2 separate regions of the Homo sapiens genome follow, and region 1 is linked to region 2. Evidence: fine-mapped expression QTL. A gene starts in region 2. The other region holds a variant in brackets. All regions are shown on one strand. Distances are between the middles of the regions.

Region 1 (9,018 bases), 22 kb before region 2:
AAATGATGAGCACCCCATCCCCCAAATGTAAGCCTTGGACCAGAGTCTTATTAAAACTAATGAATATGAGCATAGAGGTCTGCATATAGAATATCTGGGGCTCTGAACTCCCTAATACTTAAAAGTATAATCACTGACCTATGCCAGGGCTATGGCCAAGTTGAGGAGAAGAATGAATTTGTTATTGTAATTACAGTATAAAAGGATTTTTCAGCTTACTCTTAAAAACAAACAAACAAACAAACAAACAAAAACATGATCCTGAGAACTCCCTTTTACCCAACAAATCTAGTCAATTTTTTACCCCATGCTAACTTAGTATATATTGTCAGTTACTGCAGACGATTATTTCCCAGTAAAATTAGTTTTGGTCCTTACTGAAGACAGGAGGATGAATTTCAAGCCCCTGCAGACTGGGTTTAGGTTGGCAGTACGGTCCCAGACTTGGAAGAACTCTTACTTTGACCCTGACATAGAATAACTTTTTGCTTTTGGGTTAGAGATTTCTCTGAAATGTACTGAAGCCACAATGTTTTCCACAAAGGAATAATAGCATATACCATTAGGTTCCTAAAAATGCTCCAGCAAAATCCACATAATCATCTTCCTTTCTGAGAGATTATGATTTAACACCAGGTGGACATCTGGTATTAAGGACTATTTATGTCCTAGTCCCCCCAAGATCCTTGTCTTCTGCCATCTTTGTAAAGCAGAGTGCTAATTTTATTGCTTCTGAGACCACTTTAAAAAAATCATTACAGCTTCATGAAAATGATTTTACCCATAGAGAAGTTTAGAGTTACATATATTTAAAACAACCAAGAATCAATAGCAGTTATCTGAGATCCAGTTCCAAGTGGTGTGTGTGTGTGTGTGTGTGTGTGTGTGTGTTTTGAGAGAGTCTCACTCTGTCACCTAGGCTGGAATGCAGTGGTGCAATCTCGGCTCACTGCAATCTCTGTCTCCCAGGCTCAAGCGATTTTCCTGCCTCAGCCTCTCCAGTAGCTGGGATTACAGGCGCCTACCATCACACCTGGCTAATTTTTTTGTATTTTTAGTAGGGACAGGGTTTCGTCATGTTGGCCAGGCTGGTCTCGAACTTCTGGCCTCAAATGATTTGCCCGCCTCAGACTCCCAAAGTGCTGGGATTACAGGCATGAGCCATTGCACCTGGCCCCAAGTGTTTTTTTTTTTTAACTAAGCTATATTTACAATAAAATTAGAATAATTGACTATAAGAAAAAGATACAAGTCAGTGGCAGAAGAAACAGATGTTTGTTCATGGGTCTGCCCCAGGGTCTCTAACTCCATCTAGCATCAGGGCAGAGGACCAGAAAGAGCCTAGTCAGTGAGAGAAGAGGCGAGGCAGAAAATATTCAGTGACTTCTGACTTTGCAGATAAAATTTCTATCTGGAAAGGAGGCAGTGCTTCACCAGTGATTTACTTCATCTCTTATATCCAGGTTTTGTTTTAAAATACATCTCAATAACTTCCCAATTAGTGATGGGGTCACTAATCAAGGGCAAAATACCAATTCTGATTTCATGCACTATACAGATTTGTTTTCCTTACTTGGTTGGGAGGAGAAATCTACACAATTCAGGAAGAAATACGGAGCTTGTTCTGCACATGGAAAAACATCAATATTAAATGTGTTTTATAGGTTACTGAACAGGCTCTTGTGAAATAAGCTGCCTCTGTTGCCACTAAGAAAGCAACCTTGATCACTCACATTGTCATTGGGATAGAGGACCCGGGAGATGTTCTCGGCCAGGTTTCGGTCCAGCACAGCCTGAATGTAGTCTCCAACATTAACTAGGGGAAAGTTAGAGAAACAATAAATAGAGAAACCAGCCATTGTTGTTGGAAACCTCTTGATCTCACTGGCTCTGTGCTGTGTGTCATGTGGGATTCCTAAAATTCCTAAAAATCCCAAAGGATTTCAACACACCGTCATGCTGGACTTCACATGAGAATTGCTTTAAAAATGCCCTCCCTACTTCCTCCATACAATGCCTGCTTAGTCAGTGAAGTTCAGATCAGAAACTCAAGGCTTTTTTGTTTGTTTCAAGCTCAATTTGGTTCTAACTACCAATCAAAAAGATTAAGCACACGCATAAAGAAACCAAGGCCTGTGCTGTACTCACAGTCTCTGAGGTTAAAGTCATTTGGTGCCCGAGCAGACCAGAGGCGCATGGTGTTGACAGTGTTATTCATGTAGCCGGGCACGGGGGTGTCATATGGCAGAGCCAGGACCACCTGTGGGATTAAACAGAAGCAGCTGCTCATTGTTTCCCAAGTGTGATGACATAGGTTGAACAAGGGGCTGGGAGACTGCAATGGAATTCTATTCCTGGCTCCATTACCAACTTAAATTGTGTGAGGCCTAAATGGAGAAGAGGGTCTCAGGGCTGCAGAGGGTATTAGAGGAACATGTGGTTCCTCCCCGACCTGGTACAATCTAGTGACTGAAACCATCCACACTGATGGTCCTTTACAGTATTTCTATGTTGACTCTCCATGTGCCCTTGCCCTGATATAAATGCAGTGGAATGGAATGATATGGTATTTGTATTCAAAAAAGTTTATCTTTTTTTTTTTTTGAGACGGAGTCTCACTCTGTTGCCCAGGCTGGAGTGCAGTGGTGCAATCTCGGCTCACTGCAAGTTCACACCATTCTCCTGCCTCAGCCTCCCGAGTAGCTGGGACTACAGGTGCCCGCCACCATGCCCGGCTAATTTTTTTGTATTTTTAGTAGAGACGAGGTTTCACCGTGTTAGCCAGGATGGTTTCGATCTCCTGACCTCGTGATCCATCCACCTCGGCCTCCCAAAGTGCTGGGATTACAGGCGTGAGCCACTGCACCCAGCCAAAAAAGTTTATCTTTCATGTTTCAGATAAAGCCATTGCTCTAATAATAATAAAATATGATATGCAAACAAAGTGACATTGTGAATCTGTACCCACCAAAAAATAGCACTTAGAATATGTTTTGCATAGGTTTTTCAGTGATCTGATTTCAAGTATGATGAAAGTAAATGGAATAGGAAATTTATGAAGCTATAACATCTCATATAATATTTAAAATGCTATGCTAGATTTTTAAAGTTGCATAAGGAGTTATTTTAGTGATTCCTACAGTGATCTGCCAAATCAGCTGATAATTAGCTGAGTTGAGTCTAAGAGGTAAGCTTTGGAAAATCTAGCTTGATCTTTGTGACAGTCACTGAAATAGAGAAGAGGAAGATTAACTATGTTTCACAGTGCATCGAAAATTCAAGTGAGAAATCATTCATTTTTATTCCCGGCCTCATCAGAGTCAAGCTCGAAGGAAGGAGAATGACAGAATAATTGAACTGGAGGATGCTGGATCTCATTTAGTGCAACCCACTTATTTTGGACATGAGGGAGCTGAAGCTGAGAGAGAAGTGACTTGCCCAAGATCACAGTCATGGCAGGATTGAAACTTAAACACGCATCTCTTTAATTTGGTCTGCTGAATTGTGAATGAATGAAGCATTATGGCCCATATCAATCACATATACTCAGTCATACTTTCGTGATCACCGCGACCTCAAAGTAATAAATCACCCTCATTTAAATATCTTTCATTAAGAGATAAAAGTCTCTGGACTTTTAAAGCAAGTTGTAATCAATCAGGGAAAGTCATTTGCAGGCTGGGATTGAGTCTCGGTTCAAACAAGAGTTGGACCCTTCTGACCCTTGAAGCATAATTAAGGCAGCCCAAGAAGTGCACAGCTTAGATCTTCTTTCAGAGAACCTCAAAGAGGACTTGCTCCCTCAGAGCTCACACCAAAGCTGCGCTCTCTGGGACACTCCATGTGGCTGGGACACTAGGGCCGAGACTTCTCTAATGGGCAATCTTTAGTGTCAGGCTCCATCAGCCTGGCCACTTGCTCAGAGTGGCACTGTGGTCTGAGGCTCTCCCTGAGAATGCTGCTTCTTTCCCCTTCACTTTTCACAGGTGGCACACCTGTGTCACAGTCTGAAGCCTTCCCACCTCATCCTGCTCCCTCTCCCCTTTGTCTTTCATAGGCATCCCCCAATATGTCACTTGCACTTCTCATTCTCTCTGGTGTCTGTTTCCTAGAGGACCTAAACTGACACGTGACTGTGTCATTTGACTTTATTGGAAGCCATCCCATGCACGCACAGAGCACATCTGGACTCATGCTCTGACATCACTGGGTACCAGTTTGGGGTTAATTCATGTGATGACTTCAATCTATGAGGCTAAGTTGCATGGCTTGGGCCAGCTCACTTATATTACCTCTGCCCCCTAACCTTGCCTCTGTTGGCCCAGAAACACACACTCTCTCTAATTGAATTTCTGGATACATTATGACAGTATCTAGAGGTGTTTTGTAAATGCAAGTTAGCTCAGCAGTGGGACCCACAGTGTAAATAAAATGCTTCCAGGATTGATTGTGTAAACTGCAAACTTTTATTTTTATTTTATTTTATTTTATTTTTTTTGAGACAGAGTCTCACTCTGTTACCCAGGCTGGAGTGCAGCGACATGATCTCAGCTCACTGCAACCTCCACCTCCTAGGTTCAAGCGATTCTCCTGCCTCAGCCTCCCATGTAGCTGGGACTATAGGCATGGGCCACCACTCCTGGCTAATTTTCGTATTTTTAGTACAGATAGGGATTCACCATGTTGGCCAGGCTGGTCTTGAACTCCTGACCTCAGGTGATCTGCCCGCTTCGGCTTCCCAAAGTGCTGGGATTACAGTTGTGAGCCACTGCACCCAGCCAGGAATGACATTTCAAATTATTCAATTTTGCTATCAACACCTTAATATAAAACCAAAGAGGTAAGCATGCTGGTTACTATAGAACTGACAATTTTCTGG[C/CAA]AAAAAAAAAAAAAAAAAAAAAAGAACTGACAATTTTCTGACAAAGCTGGTTGCAAAATGACCCTTATAAAAGTCACTCCTCTCTTGGCCTCAGCTCCTTTGTCTCCAAAATGACTGGGCTGCGCTAAGAGAAGTAACAGATTTATTTACAAAAATATATTCTATTATTCAAAACACGACATGCCCTATACTCAATATCACCACTATATGCTACATAGTCAATGTATTATCTACTGTACTAAATACTATACAAAACGCTGGCTATACGAGCACTCTGAATACTTGAGTGTCAATCCACTTGGTCCCGGTGTTGGTGTGTTCTACTTTTCCATAGAAGTGCACAGGCAGCATGAATTCTGGGCGGGACTTCTCCCAAGGGTTTCCATATCTGAGCCAATCATCTGCTTCTTCTACCTGCAAAAGGATACAGTATTGCTTAGAATTTATTTGTCAGGAAATATGAACCTAGCACTTCAATTATATTATATTAAATTTAAAACATCTTTAACTGAAACAACTTATGAATACTGAGTACTGTTTTGTAACTTTTTTACAGCCTACATCAACAATAATACTCGCTAATACAGCTCTAAATATTTTATATGTATTACTGCATTTAATCCTCTTTTAAAGATGAGGAATTGTAACTGCTCAAGGTCAAATAGTAAACGGTAGAGATAAGATCTCAAGGTCAAACAGTAAACGATAGAGATAAGATCTGCCCTTAGGTCTCTGTGTTCCAGAGCCTCTGTCTTAACGTCTGTGAATCCAATTGTCCAGCTTCAGCTAAAGACAGACGCCTTACAGGGATGTTTATCGTTGGATACCTGGGCCTGTTGAGTCCTACACAAAGGGTTCAGTCAAGATTCTTGTGGCTAGAATATACAGAATCAGTTAGAAAATGCTACTTACAGAACACTCTTTTAATCAAGCTTATTGGTATAGGTACAGAACATTATTGCATTATGTAGTCTTTGCTTATCTCAATCCTTATGTAATTTTGATTTGATAATGAACTATAGATTATAGTTTATTTTGAAAATAACATATTCCAAGAGGTAATGAACTTATTTTATTGACAATTTCAATATTTTCCTAGGTATTTATGTCAATTTATAACAAAATATTTCTTATATACGATTTTAAACTATGGTTTCTATTTAGGATATCCTGGACATCAAATACATTTTCATTTGCAACAAACAAACAAACACATCAAAATAAGAACACCACCACCACCAAACACATTGGAGGGGGATGTATTTTTAAATTATTGAAACCTTTAAAATATGACACATACAGTTGTGGATTGCTTAACGACAGGGATACATTCTGAAAAATGTGTTCTTAAGCAACGTTGTCATTGTGCAAACATCACAGAGTGCACTTACACAAACCCAGATGGTGCTGCCTACTACACACCTGAGCTATATGGTATGGCCTCCTGCTCCTAGACTACAAACCTGTACAGCACGTTACTGTGCTGAATACTATAGGTAATGGTAACACGATGGTGTTTGTATATCTAAACATAGAAATAGTACAGTAAAAATTCAGTATAAAACATAAGAAATGGTACACCCACAGGGGGCAGCTCCATTACCATCTTATGGGACCACTATTGCATATGTGTTGTATTGTTGACTGAAATGTCATTATGTGGTGCATGACTATACATTAAAAAATGGAATTGTGTTCTGGCCAGAAGGGGGTAAACAAAGCAGCTTTGTCAATGAGATAATCTCCAATATGGTTATTTTACCTATTTGATACCTCATATTCACCTCTTAGAAAACTCAGCTTTAGTTTTAGAAGATACTGCTTAAGAATTACAACACAATGTTGGACATCTCATGATCACCTAAACATGAGTGTAATGCCTGTCTCAGGAACAGTGTGAAGAGACAAAAATAAACACAGCCACTATCTTTTGAGAATTTAGACTAACCATTATTGTCAACAGCCAGAGAAATGAATACAAGTTCACTTATTCAAATTTTGATAGTGTTGTTTATCAAGAAAGCCAGTAAGCTTCCCACTAATATTAACTACCAGTGTAATGATGAATGGAAATGGGACTCATAGCAACAACATCTTTAGTTGGAAGAGCTAGGAGTTAGAGAGCCACTGGAGGAAGGAGGAGGTATCAGATGCAAGATGAACCCTAGGGAAGGCTGGAGAGAGATCTGAGCTCGTCAGAAAGTCACATCTTCTTAAAATGCAGATTCTCAGTAGGTCTGGGGAGGGGCCTGAAATTCTGCATTCCTAATAAGCTCCCAGGGGCTCCTGATTCTACTGGTCCCTGAACCCCACAAAGAGCAGCCAAGAGCTACAAGGCAATGCAAAGTCAATAACTGTAATCTGTAATTCAGAATTAAAAACTAAACTTCCGCTATCCCAGTCATAAGAGAACAAAGATAAAATTTTTTTGAGGCAGGAAGGTCACTTGATCCCAGGAGTTTGAGAGCAGCCTGGGCAACATAGTGAGAACCTATCTCTAAAAAAAATTTAAAAATTAGCCGAGTGTGGTGGTGTGCACCTGTAGTCCCAGCTACTCAGGAAGCTGAGGTGGGAGGATTGCTTGAGCCCGGGAGGTCAGGGCTACAGTGAGCTGTGATCATGCCACTGTACTCCACCCTGGGTGACAGAGTGAGACTCCATCTCAAAAAATAAAGTAAAATAAAATAAAATAAAATTTTAATAAAGAAACAGTTGAAGTTTGCCAGTTGTCAAGAAGCTTGTTAAAGAGTCCATTAACTTGGCCAGGCGTGGTGGCAACGCCTGTAATCCCAGCACTTTGGGAGGCCGAGGTGGGCTGATCATGAGGTCAGGAGTTTGAGACCAGCCTGGCCAACATGGTGAAACCCCGTCTCTACTAAAAATATGAAAATTAGCCGGGCATGGTGGCGGGCACCTGTAATCCCAGCTACTCAGGAGGCTGAGGCAAAAGAATCACTTGAACCTGGGAGGCAGAGGTTGCAGAGAGCAGAGATTGTGCCACTGCACTCCAGCCTGGGAGACAGAGTGAGACTCTGTCTCAAAAAAAAAAAAAAAAAAAAAAAAAAAAGAAAAAGTCCATTAACTTGGGTTCATAACTAGAAATGCTATAATAAATAAAATGATGACATCAACAAAGGATCAAAACATCTTGACTTACAAAATACTTTATGCTGCACTTAGGCAAGGGCCAATTTTGGGTTTTAAAATACTGAGCAATGTGAACACTGCTTCCTGTAACAGGAAAGAACCATAGGCCTGTTTGCCTCATTTCAGCATGCAGGGCTGTTGTAAAACCCATCTGAAGGTATTGTATGAAATAGGAAGACGATGAGGCAGAAACAGTTTTCCTCTGAAAACTCATGACCATGGGAGAACTGATGACATATTTTTTTGCTGAGAAATGCAGCAGGATGATATACTGTCCTGCCCCCAAGAAGCCTGAAATGCTCAGATAAGAGAGGATGGGCACTGAACTTCCTCCTGTGGGCTCAGTCCCTGACTCCTGTGGAAGTCAGAGGTTGCATTTACTCTTTTTATTTTTATTTTCATTTTCTTTGAGACACAGTTTTGCTCTGTCGCCCAGGCTGGAGTCCAGTGGCACAATCTTGGCTCACTGCAACATATGCCTCCCAGATTCAAGTGATTCTCCTGCCTCAGCCTCCCAAGTACCTGGGATTACAGGTGCCCGCCACCACACACAACTAATTTTTGTATTTTTAGTAGAGACGGGGTTTCACCATGTTGACCAGGCTGATCTTGAACTCCTGACCTCAAGTGATCTGCCTGCCTCGGCCTCCTAAAGTGCTGGGATTACAGGCGTGAGCCACCACGATAAGCCACATTTGCTCTTTTGAGGGTACACTCTTACATGAGATTCTTAATGCCATCAAATGTTGGTTGAATTTTTTTCCTGCCAAGTAAATGATTGGTTTTAGCTTCATGGGGCTAACAACTCGTAGGAGAGTTTATTTGCTTGCTGTTCTTTATTGTGAATCTCCCGCTGATTCAATAAAGAATTGGTGAATAATTCTATCAATTTTATAAGGCTTGTTTTTAAGGTAGATTGAGAAACAAGCGTTTCATAACAAGTTGACCTGAGTAGATCTGAGGAGGAGAGAACTATCCCTTGCTGCCTCCAC
Region 2 (9,018 bases):
CAAATAACTTCTTAGAGGTAATCTCTCCTTATATTTGGGAATATATAAGACTTCAAAAAATAGATCTTGGCCATACTCTTACTTACTGGTCTCTAAATATTTGTTACATATGACTGATAGTAAAATATATGAGCATCTCCAATATACTTTATAAATTACATGCATGTACTATGATTACTAGTATTTTATGTAAAAAGTGGATATTTTCAAAAGGCTTGTAAAATAAAATAAAGAAGATATAACAAATATTTTTAAATTGTATGTTTTATTTTTATCCCCAGCATTAGTCAGAGGGCCTGGGTACTTCCGGGAAGACCTCTGGAACACCTGTCAATAAACCTGAGACTTGCAGGACAGGCAAGAGTTGAGCATAGAAATGTGGTAGGAAGGACACTGCAAGTGAATCGGGGGCCCAGAGTGGGGATTGGTTTGTTGGGAGAGCAAGGTGGGTACAGAGGGTAATGGAAGATAACAAGGGAAGAACAGGCCCACCTGGACTGAGAAGTGCTTTCGAATACTTGCTTAAGTTCTATGGCAGGCAAGAGGAGCCAATGATAATTGAGCAGGGGCAAGATGCGTTGCTTTAGGAAGCTTGAGCAGACCACAATGCACAGAATGAGACGGGATCATATACTCAAATGCCTTCAGGAGCTAGGCAGAGAAAATAAATGTGTAATTGAGGTCACATAAAACAAAGAAGAGTACTGGGCTAAGAAATGGAGTGTGCAAGTCCTGACCACAGGCGCTAAAAATTAAATTCCTGAAAAATGTCTTGGCCAACAAAGTATGTCTGCTATCCTTATTCAGCCTCAGGCTGCCGGTTTTACCACTTCTGGAAAGCAAAATAACCACGTGAAGTCAGCTGCAACAAATGGGTAGCTAGAGCCTCACCAAGGCAGGAAGAGATAATGGAGGAGAGCACGTCATTCAAGGGAACCTATAGAAATCAACAGAAATTGGCAAACAGTTGAACGGCAAAAAGTGAGACTAAAGTTTGCGTCTGGATTGTCAAGATGACAATGGCATGAAAACAAAAAACACAGAGGCCAGTCGTGGTGGCTCATGCCTGTAATCCCAGCACTTTGGGAGGCCGAGGTGGGTGGATCACCAGGTCAGGAGTTCGAGACCAGCCTGTCCAAATGGTGGAATCCTGTCGCTACTAAAAATACAAAAAGTAGCTGGGCATGGTGGCATGCACCTGTAATCCCAGCTACTCAGGAGGCTAAGGCAGGAGAATCACTTGAACCCGAGAGGCAGAGGTTGCAGTGAGCCGAGATTGCATCATTGCACTCCAACATGGGTGACAGAGTGAGACTCTGTCACAAAACAAAACAAAACACGGGAAGATGGGGCAGGATTGGGAGAAATAATGGTTTGAGTTTTTAACGTACTGAGTTTGAGGAAATAGGAAGATATCTAGATATGTTCACTAAACACTCAGAAATGTACGCATAGAGTTAGAAAAGGAATTCAGACTAGGGATCCATATTTGGGATTCATCTGCACAGTTATTGGAGAGCAAGGGAGGTGGGAGAGGAGCTTGGACACACCTACTTGCTCTACTTTATGAGGGCAGGAACCATCCTGTTTAGACAGACGACTGTGATGGAGTAGATATTTGATGAACACGTGTGGAATGAAACATGTTCATTGTTGTATCCCCAGTGTATCGCTATCAGAATTTACACACGTCGGAATTCCTGGCTTATATCTGCACTCACGTAGAAAAGGAGAGCCCAGTGAAGAAACTGGCCGGAGAACCAGGAAAACCATAAAGCACTGCATAAGCCACTGAAGGAAAAACATACAAGATTCTCTGGTGCTCTATGATGCTAAATGCTACAGAGGCGTGAGTGTGTGTTTCTAATATATGCTCAGTGTCCCACCCTTCCGCTTAAAATTGTTAAAAATAATTTTTAATGAGAGGCGCAGTATGGTGTACTTAGTAGCATTCCCTTTGTGTAAATAAATTTTTAAAAGATAGTGGCCGAGTGTGGTGGCTCACACCTGTAATCCCAGCACTTTGGGAGGCCAAGGAAGGAGGATCATTTGAGGCCAGGAGTTTGAGAGCAGCCTGGCCAACATGGTGAAACCTTGTCTCTACTAAAAATACAAACTTAGCCAGGTGTAGTGGTAGGAGCCTGTAGTCCCAGCTACTCGAGAGTCTGAGGCAGGAGAATCGCTTCAACCCTGGAGGCGAAGGATGCAGTGAGCCAAGATGGCGCCGCTGCACTTCATTCAGCCTGGGCGAGAGTGAGACTCTGTCTCAAACAAAACAAAACAAAACAAAACAAAACAAAACAACAAAACAGTAAATATATGTATACATAAAGTGTTTTCTAAGGTGCATTTAAATTTTTAAGGATACATTTTAGCAGTTGCTACCTTGGTGGAGGCCTAGGTCTTTGGGGTGAAGAAGAGTTACTTTCCATTTGAAAACTGTTACAGTTGCAATTTCTTACTATGAGAATTTACATTCATTTCCTTTCTTAAAAATTCCTATGGGGTTTCTTGGGCACTGGGATTATAGACCATTTTTTTTTCTTCACACCTTTACATAATTAAAAAGTTCTAATAAATGTTTATATATATTTCCCACTGCCCCTGGGATGTATCCCAATCTTTTATTCTTTCCAATATGTCTCTACCTGGCTTCTCCAGTTTCCTCTCCCAATACAGACTCACACCCGCCCTCACTCCAGCCTGCACACAATCCCTCTCCCTGCCATGTCCTCCCCAGTCCTTCCCCACTGCCTCTCGCCCTCTTCGCAAACTGTCAGGCAGAGATATTGTCCCTCTGTAGGTCCAAAATCACCCTAAGGAGGTCTCTGCTCCCGCCCCCACGCCGTGGATGGAGGTGGTCCCTGACCAGCCTTCCTCAGCAGCTCTGGGGGCAGGCCTCGGGTGTGGAAGGGCTAAGGGTCGGGGGAGTGTGTGTCTTCGGGGAGGACGAGTCCAGGGCATTGCCTGGCCCTGGGCCGCCTTTGCGAAAGACTCACGGAATTCCAGGAGCTACACCCACTCAGGAGAATGGGTGGGCGGCGCTCTACGCTTGGAGCGGGACCCTGCCCCTCCTCTGCACCACACTTAGCCACTCCCAGAGGCCTGAGACTTACGACCTTTTCCCAGCTCGGCGTTTGTCTCCCCTCCCAAAATACCAAGCTCCAGCAAGGCAAGATTTTTGTCCCTTTTGTTTAGGGCTGAGTGTCCAGGGCAGAGAATAGTGTCCGGCATACAGGACAAGAGGCCCCCGTCACCTCTTGATTAAATGCTGAGAGTCAAAGTTCCAAAAAAGTTTGTGAAGTGGACAGGCGAGAGGGGCCTGGGCTTTTGCCCACCTGGCGGTTTCCAGGGGCGGACGGCACAGTGGTTTGGGCGGGACACTGGCGGGTGGCACCTCGGAGACATGAGTTCGGCGTCTGTTGGGAGGCCTAATCTGTCCCCCAGGCTGCCCGCCCACAGCCTAGACACGTCTCCTCTGGACTTCGGGGCAAGGACCGGGTGCAAGGGACCACTCTGAGGGGTTCTCCACCTCGTCCCGCCCGGCCGCGGCCGGAGACTCCGACTCCGGGCTGGACCCCGGCCCGCCGTCCCGCCCCCGGTTACCTTGGGGCACTTGTCGTAGTAGTGCTGCTGCGTGCGGATCCAGCGCCCCACCAGGTGGTCGCGCACCGTGTGCGCCAGCGCGAAGTAGTAGTCGCGGGTGGTGGCCACGTTGCGGTCCTTGACCAGCGTGAAGTGCAGGTGCCGGTTGAAACTCTTCTTCAGCTCTGCCACGTTCTCCACGCCCACGATGCCGCGGATGCTGATCTGCCGCCGCTTCTCCTGGTCCGTCAGGGGCTTCGCCATGGCTGGGGCGGCGGGCTGCGCGGCGGGCTGCGCAGAGAGCTGGAAGTGCGGCCGGAGGCGCTGGGCTGCCGGGCAGGGGTGGAGTCCGCCCCGCCGCGCCAGCAGCTTTCAACGCGCACGAAAGTTTGGGGCCCGCCCCCTCGGGCGGTGCCGTCCCCGCTGCACTCCCACCGCGTCCCGGCCCCTGCCCCAGGCCGGAGGGCAGAGGAAGTGCCCGGCCCCTCCCGAGGCTCTGGGGCCGCAGTGGGCTCGGGGGTGGGAGACGAGGTCCAAGCGCCGGCGAGACCCCTGCCAGCCCGGGACCTGGGCTCGGAGGCTCCCTTCCGGATTTCCAAAATCTGCGGAGGCAGCATTTGTTCCGCCTCTCCCCTCTAGAGTGTGGAGACAGGAGGACGTCTGTGTAGGGAAGCACGTCGTTGGCAGACTGCTGTTTTGCCGATGTTTATTTGTTATGCCATTATGACTGTTAGGATTTCTCACCTGGAGTGGCTTCCGCCATAAGCGCCGGGATCTGGAAGGACGGCACGTTTGACTTCTGTTGTCCCAACCTCACTTGCCAGCCCTTGGCACCGCCCCAGCTTGGATCCTCAGGGCGCCTCTGTTATTTTCATTCATTTTTTTTGAGGACTCCAGGGTTCAGGTTTCTTAACTCCTGGACCAAAGTTCGCCCCGCTCGTAGCACCCTGTCTCTCATCCTTAGAGGTAGGTTACTAAGAATCAGAGTAGGTGAGGTGAAGCTCTAGGGTCATTATGCGGCAGGGGCTTTTACCTTAGGCTTCTTCGAATTACGTTTTAACTGCAGTGGAGGGTGTGGGGGGAGGAGAGGGAGAAAACAGAAGGGTATGTGTGTGGAAAATGAAGGGATTACTCACTGGACTAGTTGCCTTCTTTACAAAAAACAACCCAGTCTGTGTTACTGTGCGGTACAGGCTGATCTTTGCACCTCCACTTTGGGTGGTATTTGAATATGCGTGTTTATGTGTGCTTAAACCTTGGTAAAGGCAAACACTTGGCATTTTAGGATGTCAGAGGTTTTTTCTTCCTCATTAAGTAGTATTAATATATTATTTTAGAAACAGTCCATTGCCAGAATTAAGTTTTCTTTTTCCTTTTTCTTTTCTTTTTCTTTCTTCTTCTTCTTTTTTTTTTTTTTTTGAGACGGAGTCTCACTCTGTTGCCCAGGCTGGAGTGCAGTGGCGCGATCTCGGCTCACTGCAAGCTCCGCCTCCCGGGTTCACGCCATTCTCCTGCTTCAGCCTCCTGAATAGCTGGGACTACAGGCGCCCGCCACCTCGCATTTTTTATTTTTTATTTTTTTATTTTTAGTAGAGACAGGGTTTCACCATGTTAGCCAGGATGGTCTCTATCTCCTGACCTCGTGATCTGCCCGCCTCGGCCTCCCAAAGGGCTGGGATTACAGGCGTGAGCCACCGCGCCCGGCCAATAGTCACATATATTCTTCTAAGTTTATTTGTTTGTTGTTTTTTGAGACAGGGTCTCACTCTGTTACCCAGGCAGAGTGCAGTGGCGCGATCTGGGCTCACTGCAAGCTCCGCCTCCCGGGTTCACGCCATTCTCCCGCCTCAGCCTCCCGAGTAGCTGGGACTACAGGCGCCCGCCACCACGCCCGGCTAATTTTTTGTATTTTTAGTACAGATGGGGTTTCACCGTGTTAGCCAGGATGGTCTCGATCTCCTGACCTTGTGATCCGCCCTCCTCGGTCTCCCAAAGTGCTGGGATTACAGGCGTGAGCCACCGCGCCCGGCCAAGTTTTCTAGAAAAATCTTAGTATACTTATATTAATATATTTTGTTTTTTATAATAAACCCAAGTTGATTATTTTGAATTCACACATGGTGGTGGTGGGGGGGGGGGGGGGGGCGGGTAATGGATTAATTGATTCAGACCAAATGTGACCCTCACCATAAAAGTGAAAGTTCAAAGCTCATAGTTCTGACAAAATTTCCTGAATCCTTGTCCTCCCAGATTCTGAAGTTTGGACTTGAGCTTTTGGGGCAGAGACTGAATTGGGCCTTATGCAACTCTTGCAATACCGATGACCTGCAAAGGACAGTATGGAAGAGATGAGCATTAGAGTTTGGATCCGGATGGGGCCAGAAATACCCTGAATTAAGAGTGGGAAGGGGGGGCCCATCAAAATCATTGATCTTAAAAATAAGTAAGGCCTGTGGGGTGAAATTTGAAATAAAGCAGAAAGATAAGCTTCTTTGATTATTATATAACTTAAAAAAGTGTTTATCAGCTTTGAATACCCCCAAGATGGTCACAGCATTAAGCCAGTTATGGGTCATTCGTACATAAGTGTGAAATTAGTCACTCAGCTTTAACAGCTGGATGAAAAATAGGGTAGAGCCTAGGATGAGGGAATACCAGGTCTGAGTAGGTCTTCCTCCCAGAAAGGTCTCTGAGCAGGAGAAGGCATCATAATGTCTGGGCATTGGGGAGTGAATAATTAGGGGGCACACAAGAAGGGATGAAAGACACCAAAAGCAAGCTTACTCGGTTTCTTAGTTTTGCTTAAGACAGTTTCAAATAGATGGCTCCCAGCTCCGCTGTCTACTTTCCTGTACTAAATTCTTGTTGGAAACTCAGGGTAATGATGAACTAATGAACACACTATTTTCTTGATTCACTATCCAGTCGGTGAGCCTGCACCCCCGGCTTGAACAATTCTCTATGCAGAAAAATCATGAACTATAGAATGCTCAATATATAGAGTATGGGGAAAAACTATCCATCTCCATGTTAAAAAGAACGTGATGGAACCAGGTGATTTAGGGTGTTCCATAGACCCAGTCTTAAACGACAATGAATTACATTGCAAGACAGTTATTCCCCTTTCACTTTTCTTTAAGTCTTTCTGGAAAGTCCTTTGTGTTAACATGTTAGCATTTTTTAATCTATATTTTTAACAGAATGCAGGTACAGACTCTAAAAGTTCTTGAAGTTTTAGCATCTAACTAGAATTTAATACAATTATCTTCCATTTATGGTAAATGATACTTTTTCAGTTGACATTCTGATATAAACTTTGTTTCATCTGCTTGTTCTGTGCTAGTCTAGGACACTGAGGCCTTGAGAGGTTAAGTTACTTGACTAAGAAAATTAATATCTTTAAAAACCTTTCCTTTAGCCTCTCTTGACCAGAAAGAACCAGAAACTATGGATCCCTGAAAAAGTATCAGATTTCAGTGGCTCACATGTTTATAGCAGCCTTACTCACAATGGCCTATATTATTCCTGCTTCTCATCCACTGCTTCCCCGTGGCTGCTGTAACGAAATGGCGTTTGTAAGTAGCTGAACAAACAGTCCAGAACTCATAGGACAAGTGTAAGTTTCCCACTGTTGGAAATACAAAAAAACATGAGAAAGTAGTGTGTTAGTTCGGGTCTTCAGAGAAGCAGAAGCTAAAACAGGATTAAACATGTTAAGATTTTTTACTGGGGTAAATGCTTGTGGGAGGGAAAAACGGGGAGTGCTAGCCAGAGAGAGCATCAGACTGTGATGCCAGTGTGACCTAGAGTGAAGGGGAGAGAGAGGGAAGGGTAGAAGGGCATATCTCAGACAGCCCTGTAGTCCCAGGAAGATCCAGCAGTGCTGCTGGGCAGTTCTGGAGGGCATCTGCTGTCAGGAGTCCACGGTACTCTGCTCGGTCATTGGTGGGATCATCCTCCCGGAGGCATGGCCTCTGCAGGGCTATCTGGAGCCCTGGGTCGGTTATGCTTCCTGCAGCTTGGGGCATCTATGAGGTCCTTTCTAGTGACCACCACAGAAAGATATGAGATAAACAAATACAGATTAATACCCACTATGTTTCAAAGCAGGGCCTATTGTGGTGGCATACCACTTTCAGATTATCAAAACGGCAACTAGCATTTTCCAAGGACTCTGGCAAGGCCCATAATGTGCATTACTCATTTAATCTTCTCATCAGCTCTGTGGGACAAGTTCTGTTTTTCTTTCCATTTCACAGATGAGGAAATCGAGGCTTAGAGAAGGTGAGTAGCTTGCTCAAGATCACCTCACCAGTAAGTGATGGAAGAGGTTTTCAAATCCCTTAATGTTGTTTCTCCTCCCCTGAAACAGGATTTGTGATCTGTTAAGTAAACCTGAATTCTGACTGCATCTCAGCTAACCTATTACCCTACTCACTTGTTTTGTTTTGTTTGTTTTTTTTTGAGGCGGAATCTCGCTCTTGTCACCCAGGCTGGAGTGCAATGGCGCCATCTTGGCTCAGTGCAACTTTTGCCTCCCAGGTTCAAGTGATTCTCCTGCCCCACCCTCTTGAATAGCTGGGATTACAGACGTGCGCCACCATGCCTGGCTAGATTTTGTATTTTTAGTAGAGAGGGGGGTTTCACCATGCTGGTCAGGCTGGTCTCAGACTCCTGACCTCAGGTAATTCACCCGTCTCGGCCTCCCAAAGTACTGGGATTATAGGCGTGAGCCACCGCGCCCGGCCTGTTTTGTACTGTTTATTGGTTTTTGACCATCTTCTAATCAGTTCTGCAATCTAGGGAAATGCCAGAGGTCCACAGTGGCCCCACAGACAGGTCACTAACACTCTGGAAAGGGGTGGTGTAAACCATGGGCTGAGCTTTATGCTCAATGAGGGAATTTGAGTACACTGCACTCAGCATATTTAATGTATGAATCTGTTAACCAAGGTTGTTATCCAGGCTCCGCTGTTTCAAATATTTAGAAAGATGACTGAGGGCCAGGTGCGGTGGCTCACACCTGTAATCCCAGCACTTTGGGAGGCCGAGGTGGGTGGATCACGAGGTCAGGAGATCGAGACCATCCTGGCTAACATGGTGAAACCCCGTCTCTACTAAAAAATACAAAAACAATTAGCCAAGCGTGATGGCGGGTGCCTGTAGTCCTAGCTACTTGGGAGGCTGAGGCAGGAGAATGGCGTGAACCCAGGAGGCGGAGCTTGCAGTGAGCTGAGATCGCCACACTGCACTCCCAGCCTGGGTGACAGAGCGAGTCAATTCTGAGCCAAAAGAACAAAGCTGGAGGCATCACACTACCTGACTTCAAACTATACTACAAGGCTACAGTAACCAAAACAGCATGGTACTGGTACCAAAACAGAGATATAGATCAATGGAACAGAACAGAGCCCTCAGAAATAACGCCGCATA

The links. PIP is the estimated chance that this variant, and not a neighbour inherited with it, causes the effect.
Region 1: its variant is fine-mapped to the expression of PYGL in whole blood (INTERVAL, PIP above 0.99).

The regions. Positions count from the first base shown.
Region 1 is chr14:50,918,808-50,927,825 of GRCh38, forward strand. PYGL (glycogen phosphorylase L) reads right to left here. Exons shown (of 20, transcript NM_002863.5): 5 at 5,162-5,293; 6 at 2,149-2,260; 7 at 1,734-1,816. Among named protein-coding and RNA genes, the nearest start is that of PYGL, 21 kb to the right of the region's middle. The variant C/CAA (reference allele first, on the strand shown) is at 4,880.
Region 2 is chr14:50,940,555-50,949,572 of GRCh38, forward strand. PYGL (glycogen phosphorylase L) reads right to left here and starts at 3,929. Exons shown (of 20, transcript NM_002863.5): 1 at 3,607-3,929. The coding sequence starts at 3,849. It overlaps LOC124903314 (a long non-coding RNA gene), which reads right to left and starts at 2,036. Exons shown (of 2, transcript XR_007064163.1): 1 at 1,555-2,036; 2 at 247-651. It overlaps LOC400212 (a long non-coding RNA gene), which reads right to left. Exons shown (of 4, transcript NR_170195.1): 3 at 7,094-7,213; 4 at 5,736-5,910. RefSeq lists an enhancer at 2,757-3,280 and a silencer at 3,949-4,108.